Linked DNA regions of Homo sapiens: region 1 is reported to be linked to region 2. Evidence: microRNA targets listed by miRTarBase, many of them from high-throughput screens and not tested one by one. Region 2 holds a microRNA gene; the other region holds the end of a gene's coding sequence.

Evidence for each region. The annotated mature microRNA hsa-miR-6764-3p reads UCUCUGGUCUUUCCUUGACAG and lies in region 2 at 1,046-1,066, shown strand. An mRNA with a match to its seed (bases 2 to 7 or 8) in the 3' UTR can be bound and repressed. Matches are read on the target gene's strand: a 7mer-m8 pairs with bases 2 to 8, a 7mer-A1 pairs with bases 2 to 7 and ends in A, and an 8mer does both.
Region 1: the mRNA of MAGEB4 is a reported target of hsa-miR-6764-3p. Seed matches in the 3' UTR shown: 7mer-A1 at 969-975.

Annotation. Positions count from the first base shown.
Region 1 is chrX:30,242,755-30,245,754 of GRCh38, forward strand. It overlaps MAGEB4 (MAGE family member B4), which reads left to right. Exons shown (of 1, transcript NM_002367.4): 1 at 1-1,433. The coding sequence ends at 422. It also overlaps a transcript of MAGEB1 not described here. Among named protein-coding and RNA genes, the nearest start is that of MAGEB4, 2.3 kb to the left of the region's middle.
Region 2 is chr14:100,276,352-100,279,351 of GRCh38, forward strand. It overlaps MIR6764 (microRNA 6764), which reads left to right and starts at 1,006; the gene lies at 1,006-1,066. YY1 (YY1 transcription factor) reads left to right here. Exons shown (of 5, transcript NM_003403.5): 4 at 139-297; 5 at 1,067-3,000. The coding sequence ends at 1,249. It also overlaps a transcript of SLC25A29 not described here. RefSeq lists an enhancer at 1,982-2,962.

The DNA.
Region 1 (3,000 bases), not on the chromosome of region 2:
TGATCTTCTTAAATGGCAACTGTGCCCGTGAAGAGGAAATCTGGGAATTCCTGAATATGCTGGGGATCTATGATGGAAAGAGGCACCTTATCTTTGGGGAACCCCGAAAGCTCATCACCCAAGATCTGGTACAGGAAAAATATCTGGAATACCAGCAGGTGCCCAACAGTGATCCCCCACGCTATCAATTCCTGTGGGGTCCAAGAGCTCATGCAGAAACCAGCAAGATGAAAGTCCTGGAGTTTTTGGCCAAGGTGAATGACACCACCCCCAATAACTTCCCACTGCTTTATGAAGAGGCTTTGAGAGATGAAGAAGAGAGAGCTGGAGCCCGGCCCAGAGTTGCAGCCAGGCGTGGCACTACAGCCATGACTAGTGCGTATTCCAGGGCCACATCCAGTAGCTCTTCCCAACCCATGTGAGATCTAAGGCAAATTGTTCACTTTGTGGTTGAAAGACCTGCTGCTTTCTCTGTTCCTGTGATGCATGAATAACTCATTGATTTATCTCTTTGTTGTATTTTCCATGATGTTTCTTAAAATAGAAAGTTTATTTAGATTCAGAATATAAATTTAGAAATGGCATGCATCACACATTTATTGCTGTTTATCAGGTTGGTTTAGTGATAATAATTTTGTTTTTGAAATACAAATAGAAAATCCTGAAATAATTTTTGTGATACAGAGCAAAATAACACGGCATGGGAGTAAGGTTATCCTTAGAAATTTAAAATAACTCCACAGTAAAATAGGTAGAATCTGAAGATAGAAAGGGAAGAAAAGTAAAAGTTGCTTTATTCGTGGTTTGTCTTACTCAGTTCAGTCTTTTTTTGCTCATAAATTTAAAAGTTACATACCTGGTTTGCTTAGATTATTCAAGAATGTGGAGGCCTGGGCCAAGGTCAATGACAGTGTCTCCATTGTCTTCCCTCCATTAAGAGAAGACTTTAAGAGATGAGGGAGAGAGAGCCAGAGACAGTGTTGCAACTGGGCCTGGCATGTTTCAGTGTGGTGTCCAGCAGTGTCTCCCACTCCTTGTGAAGTCTGAGGTATATTCTTTACTTTTGATTAAGAAAACACTTAACCTTCTAATTAATGGAGAGCCAAAGGGGAGTTGGTGGGAACACCATGTATAACATATTTGTATGTAAAATGATTTATCTTTTCTTTTTCCTGTTTTTCAGTGTTCTTTTTTTAAATTGTAGATTTATTTAGTTTCAGAATCTAAGTTTATGAATGGCATGAATCACTCATTTATTAAAATATATCAGGTTGGAGAGTGAGAATTTTTGCATTATGTAAAACAATTTAAAAATCTTTTAAGTCTTTTTCTGTGATCTAGAACAAGATAATATGGCATTGGAATATGGAATTTGTGAAAAGGAAATTACCTTGCAATAAAGTTGGTGGGACCAGGAAGTAGAGAAAAAAAAAGTAAAATGTGGTCAATTCTTGCTTTGTTTTATTCTTTTTAGTCTTTCTTTGTAAAACTGAAGTATATGTACCCGGATCTGCTTAGCTTTTTCAGGAATGTGGGGGAAATTAAATAGCAATACATTTGACTTCCTGGTCACTTACACTTCAATTGTCCAAATATTAATTGAGCAGCTGTACTTTGGAGGGCTCCTGGCTAGTACCGGATAAGCTAAGAAAACAAAAAACAAACAAACAACAAAAAAACCCCAATCCCTGCCCACAGAATTTTAGAATCCAACAGCAGCTATCATATAACGAAGGTAATGAGATACTCCTTAAGACCTAAAGACAGGTGAAAAGGGGATAAAAAAGAAGGTGGGGGTATTACCAGCAGTGGAATCTAGTGTAAATGTCCTAAGCAAGGTAACTGAGACTTCGGGAAACTGAACATACTGCAATAGGAGGTAATTTTATGTCCTGGCATAGTGCCTATATGGGGCGCACTGAGCAGGGGTCACACACTCAGATGGTGGATCTCACACTTGAGAGATGGAGACTGGAATGAAAAATTGCCTTTAACAGTTACTTTGGGATTGTGGAAAAACCAGAGGGGATCTTTGCCTGGAGCAGGGATTGAAAGTGGCCGGTGCTCTTGTCCCAGTGCAAGTGAAGTGAATCCAGTACACAAACTAGGTGTTTTATGAGCGTAGTCCCCAGGGTGTTTCTGAGAAATAAAGGTGATACTCCTTTAAGACTGGAAACTCATAAGCCACTGGGCTAATACTCTGCTATCAGCTGGGGAGCCAGAACCCATTCCATTAAAAGGAATTTTTTTTCCTTTCATGTGTTTTTGCAAATTCTAAGGGAGATCTAGATTTTTGATGGTGGTAAAATGAATGAAAATAAGACTGGTTTGGATGAAAGGTCAGAGTTGGTCCTTGAACCAAAGCCTAGAAGGTTTGAGTTGCTTTCAGCTGAGAAAGACAACTCCACACTCAAAATATGATTTAATATGGAAAAGTTATTTAGAGTTTCTTTGTAAGCTGCGTTTTGGGCTGATTTTATTGTTCCATGTCTTAGAATGCTGTATATTCTTTGTTATCTCTTGGACTTAAAGAAAATCAGCAGGGTGGATGATTTCTTCTGTAGTTGAAATAATCTTAGTAATAACAAGTATTGTTTAAAGTCTCAATGCACACCAGGGCTTTGCACACTTTCACCACATTCCACCAGTCCTACAAGACAAGGCTTATCAAGCTCATTTCACAGATGTAGAGCCTGAGGCTCATAGAGTTTATTAATGTGCCCAAGTTCACACAGCTAGTAAGTGATAGGGCTGGAACTAGACTGCTGGTCTGAATTCCTCTAGAGCCCACACTGTTCCACTCCTCCCAAACTGAAGCTTACTGTGAATTGCTTAATTCATTTTCTTCTACAACCCCAAAGTGTGTCTCAGGTAAGAAAGAAGAGGTCTCTGTACCCCAAACACTGGATTGGAATACATAACCAGAGCAAGAAGAATACCAAAATAATTGACAGATGTGAATTAAAGAGAAAAAGAAATAATACTCGGTGACAATATGAT
Region 2 (3,000 bases):
ACCGTAATACTAAGTAAAATTAAAATGGGGGGTTGGGGAGGTGGTTTTGTTTTAATATGTCAGTAAAGGCTGTTAAATGGTTGAATCCTTTCTAACAGTTTGCAATGTGAACTTCTAAGCTGCTTTCTCTGTTTTAAGGGCTGCACAAAGATGTTCAGGGATAACTCGGCCATGAGAAAACATCTGCACACCCACGGTCCCAGAGTCCACGTCTGTGCAGAATGTGGCAAAGCTTTTGTTGAGAGTTCAAAACTAAAACGACACCAACTGGTTCATACTGGAGAGAAGCCCTTTCAGGTAGAGCCAGTTCCCTCTCTTCCCCACACTGCCTTGCCTGTCTGAACACTGCAAGTGTAGGTGGTGTGGTGATGAGGCAGGAGGCGCCAGCCCAGAGACTCAGGGTCTTATTACTCCTTGGTGAGAAACAAAACTTCTCCTGGGGAGTCGCTTAGAAGGGTTGCCGGGGCTCTGGACATCCTTGTCTATACTCTGTGGTACTGGGTACGCAATGTATTGGTGTTGATGGAGTACACTTTATGGCAGGAGGAGAACAGGATTGAAGAGCATACCTAAAACTCAATTTCTACTTCATTCATTACAGGATTGAAGTAATTTATTTTTGGTAGTTAATAGTATAATTACTAACTGATAAAGTTTCTAGAGTGTAAGTATAGGTAATACTTTAGCCCATAAATAAGTGAAAGAACTAGCAGTGCAGCTAGTAAATCTAACGTGGTTCTTTTTTGACAACTGACACCAGAACCCTTAATCATTTGTATTTTACTGTTGGAAATGTTTACAGCAGCACTAGGACTCTAGCCTGCATTTAGGAAGACTTGCCATTTTGCCAAGTGTTTTAAACAGTTCGTGAGGGCTCTCCTTGGGTTTTCGGGGTTGTCCAACCTGCCTGCTGATTCTAGACTATATCCACAAAGTTCACCCAGGGCAGGAATGAAAAGTGTTTGGTAAAATAAATAGGCTGTTCTCTAGCAAAGCAGTGAGCTCCTGACTCCCAGGGTCTGGTCAGAGTTGCTGAGTGGGTTGATCTCTGGTCTTTCCTTGACAGTGCACGTTCGAAGGCTGTGGGAAACGCTTTTCACTGGACTTCAATTTGCGCACACATGTGCGAATCCATACCGGAGACAGGCCCTATGTGTGCCCCTTCGATGGTTGTAATAAGAAGTTTGCTCAGTCAACTAACCTGAAATCTCACATCTTAACACATGCTAAGGCCAAAAACAACCAGTGAAAAGAAGAGAGAAGACCCTTCTCGACCACGGGAAGCATCTTCCAGAAGTGTGATTGGGAATAAATATGCCTCTCCTTTGTATATTATTTCTAGGAAGAATTTTAAAAATGAATCCTACACACCTAAGGGACATGTTTTGATAAAGTAGTAAAAATTAAAAAAAAAAAACTTTACTAAGATGACATTGCTAAGATGCTCTATCTTGCTCTGTAATCTCGTTTCAAAAACACAGTGTTTTTGTAAAGTGTGGTCCCAACAGGAGGACAATTCATGAACTTCGCATCAAAAGACAATTCTTTATACAACAGTGCTAAAAATGGGACTTCTTTTCACATTCTTATAAATATGAAGCTCACCTGTTGCTTACAATTTTTTTAATTTTGTATTTTCCAAGTGTGCATATTGTACACTTTTTTGGGGATATGCTTAGTAATGCTACGTGTGATTTTTCTGGAGGTTGATAACTTTGCTTGCAGTAGATTTTCTTTAAAAGAATGGGCAGTTACATGCATACTTCAAAAGTATTTTCCTGTAAAAAAAAAAAAGTTATATAGGTTTTGTTTGCTATCTTAATTTTGGTTGTATTCTTTGATGTTAACACATTTTGTATAATTGTATCGTATAGCTGTATTGAATCATGTAGTATCAAATATTAGATGTGATTTAATAGTGTTAATCAATTTAAACCCATTTTAGTCACTTTTTTTTTCCAAAAAAATACTGCCAGATGCTGATGTTCAGTGTAATTTCTTTGCCTGTTCAGTTACAGAAAGTGGTGCTCAGTTGTAGAATGTATTGTACCTTTTAACACCTGATGTGTACATCCCATGTAACAGAAAGGGCAACAATAAAATAGCAATCCTAAAGCAAGAATATGGCAGAACAAGATCTGTAAGCACAGTCTTATTTTCTTTTGTTGTCCAGAATACTTATAATTCTTGAGCCTCCCAGAAATTGGAAGCTAAATAAAGCAACTCAAGTTTCCTTTATTTTGCACTCAATTACAGTGATTATTGATGAAAGCGATGCATGGATATTTTAATACTTCCTACATGTCCTGACTTCTGAAAGAGAGTAGGTAACAGGCATCCCGAGTTCAGGAACTACCTCAGAACACCCCAGGCCAGGTTGGTCATAGGCTGTGATTTTAGCCCCCGGCAAGTGTGAGTGAAGCATCTGTACCACCGCGCAGGCTGAGCGCCTGCGCAGGGTAAGGTGCCACCTGGCAGTGGGGCACACAGAGGGAAGACCAGGCCTGTCCATCAGCCGGCTGCCTTCAGAGGCAGCTCCAGCAGGACCTTGGCTTGTCTGACAGGAAATGCTTGTGGTCGTTGGTTATTTGGTTTGAGAGCCCTTGTTCCTCCATCTAGTGGAGTCCTTATTAAATGCTAGCAATGTGGCAATTGAGTGCCAGTAGCTTAATTTCATGTTTCTAAATGGACACTGGGTGCAAATCGGCAAGGTGATTAGATTATTAGAAAATTCTGCTCAATGAGTACCTCTCACATTGTAACCTCTTAAATGTACGATTATAATGTTGGATCTTAGGTCAAATAACAGACTTGAGAATACTTTATAAACTGCCATGATACAGCAAAATCTCATTTATTCAAAGTGCAAACATACTGTGTGTCTTTCTGTTTTGTGTATGCTTGACTGCAAGATAAATGACAAACTAGCTAATATCCGAGATTTATTTACAAATGGCCAGGGACCCCATCAGGTGAAACACATAGCCCATTGTCTTAGAG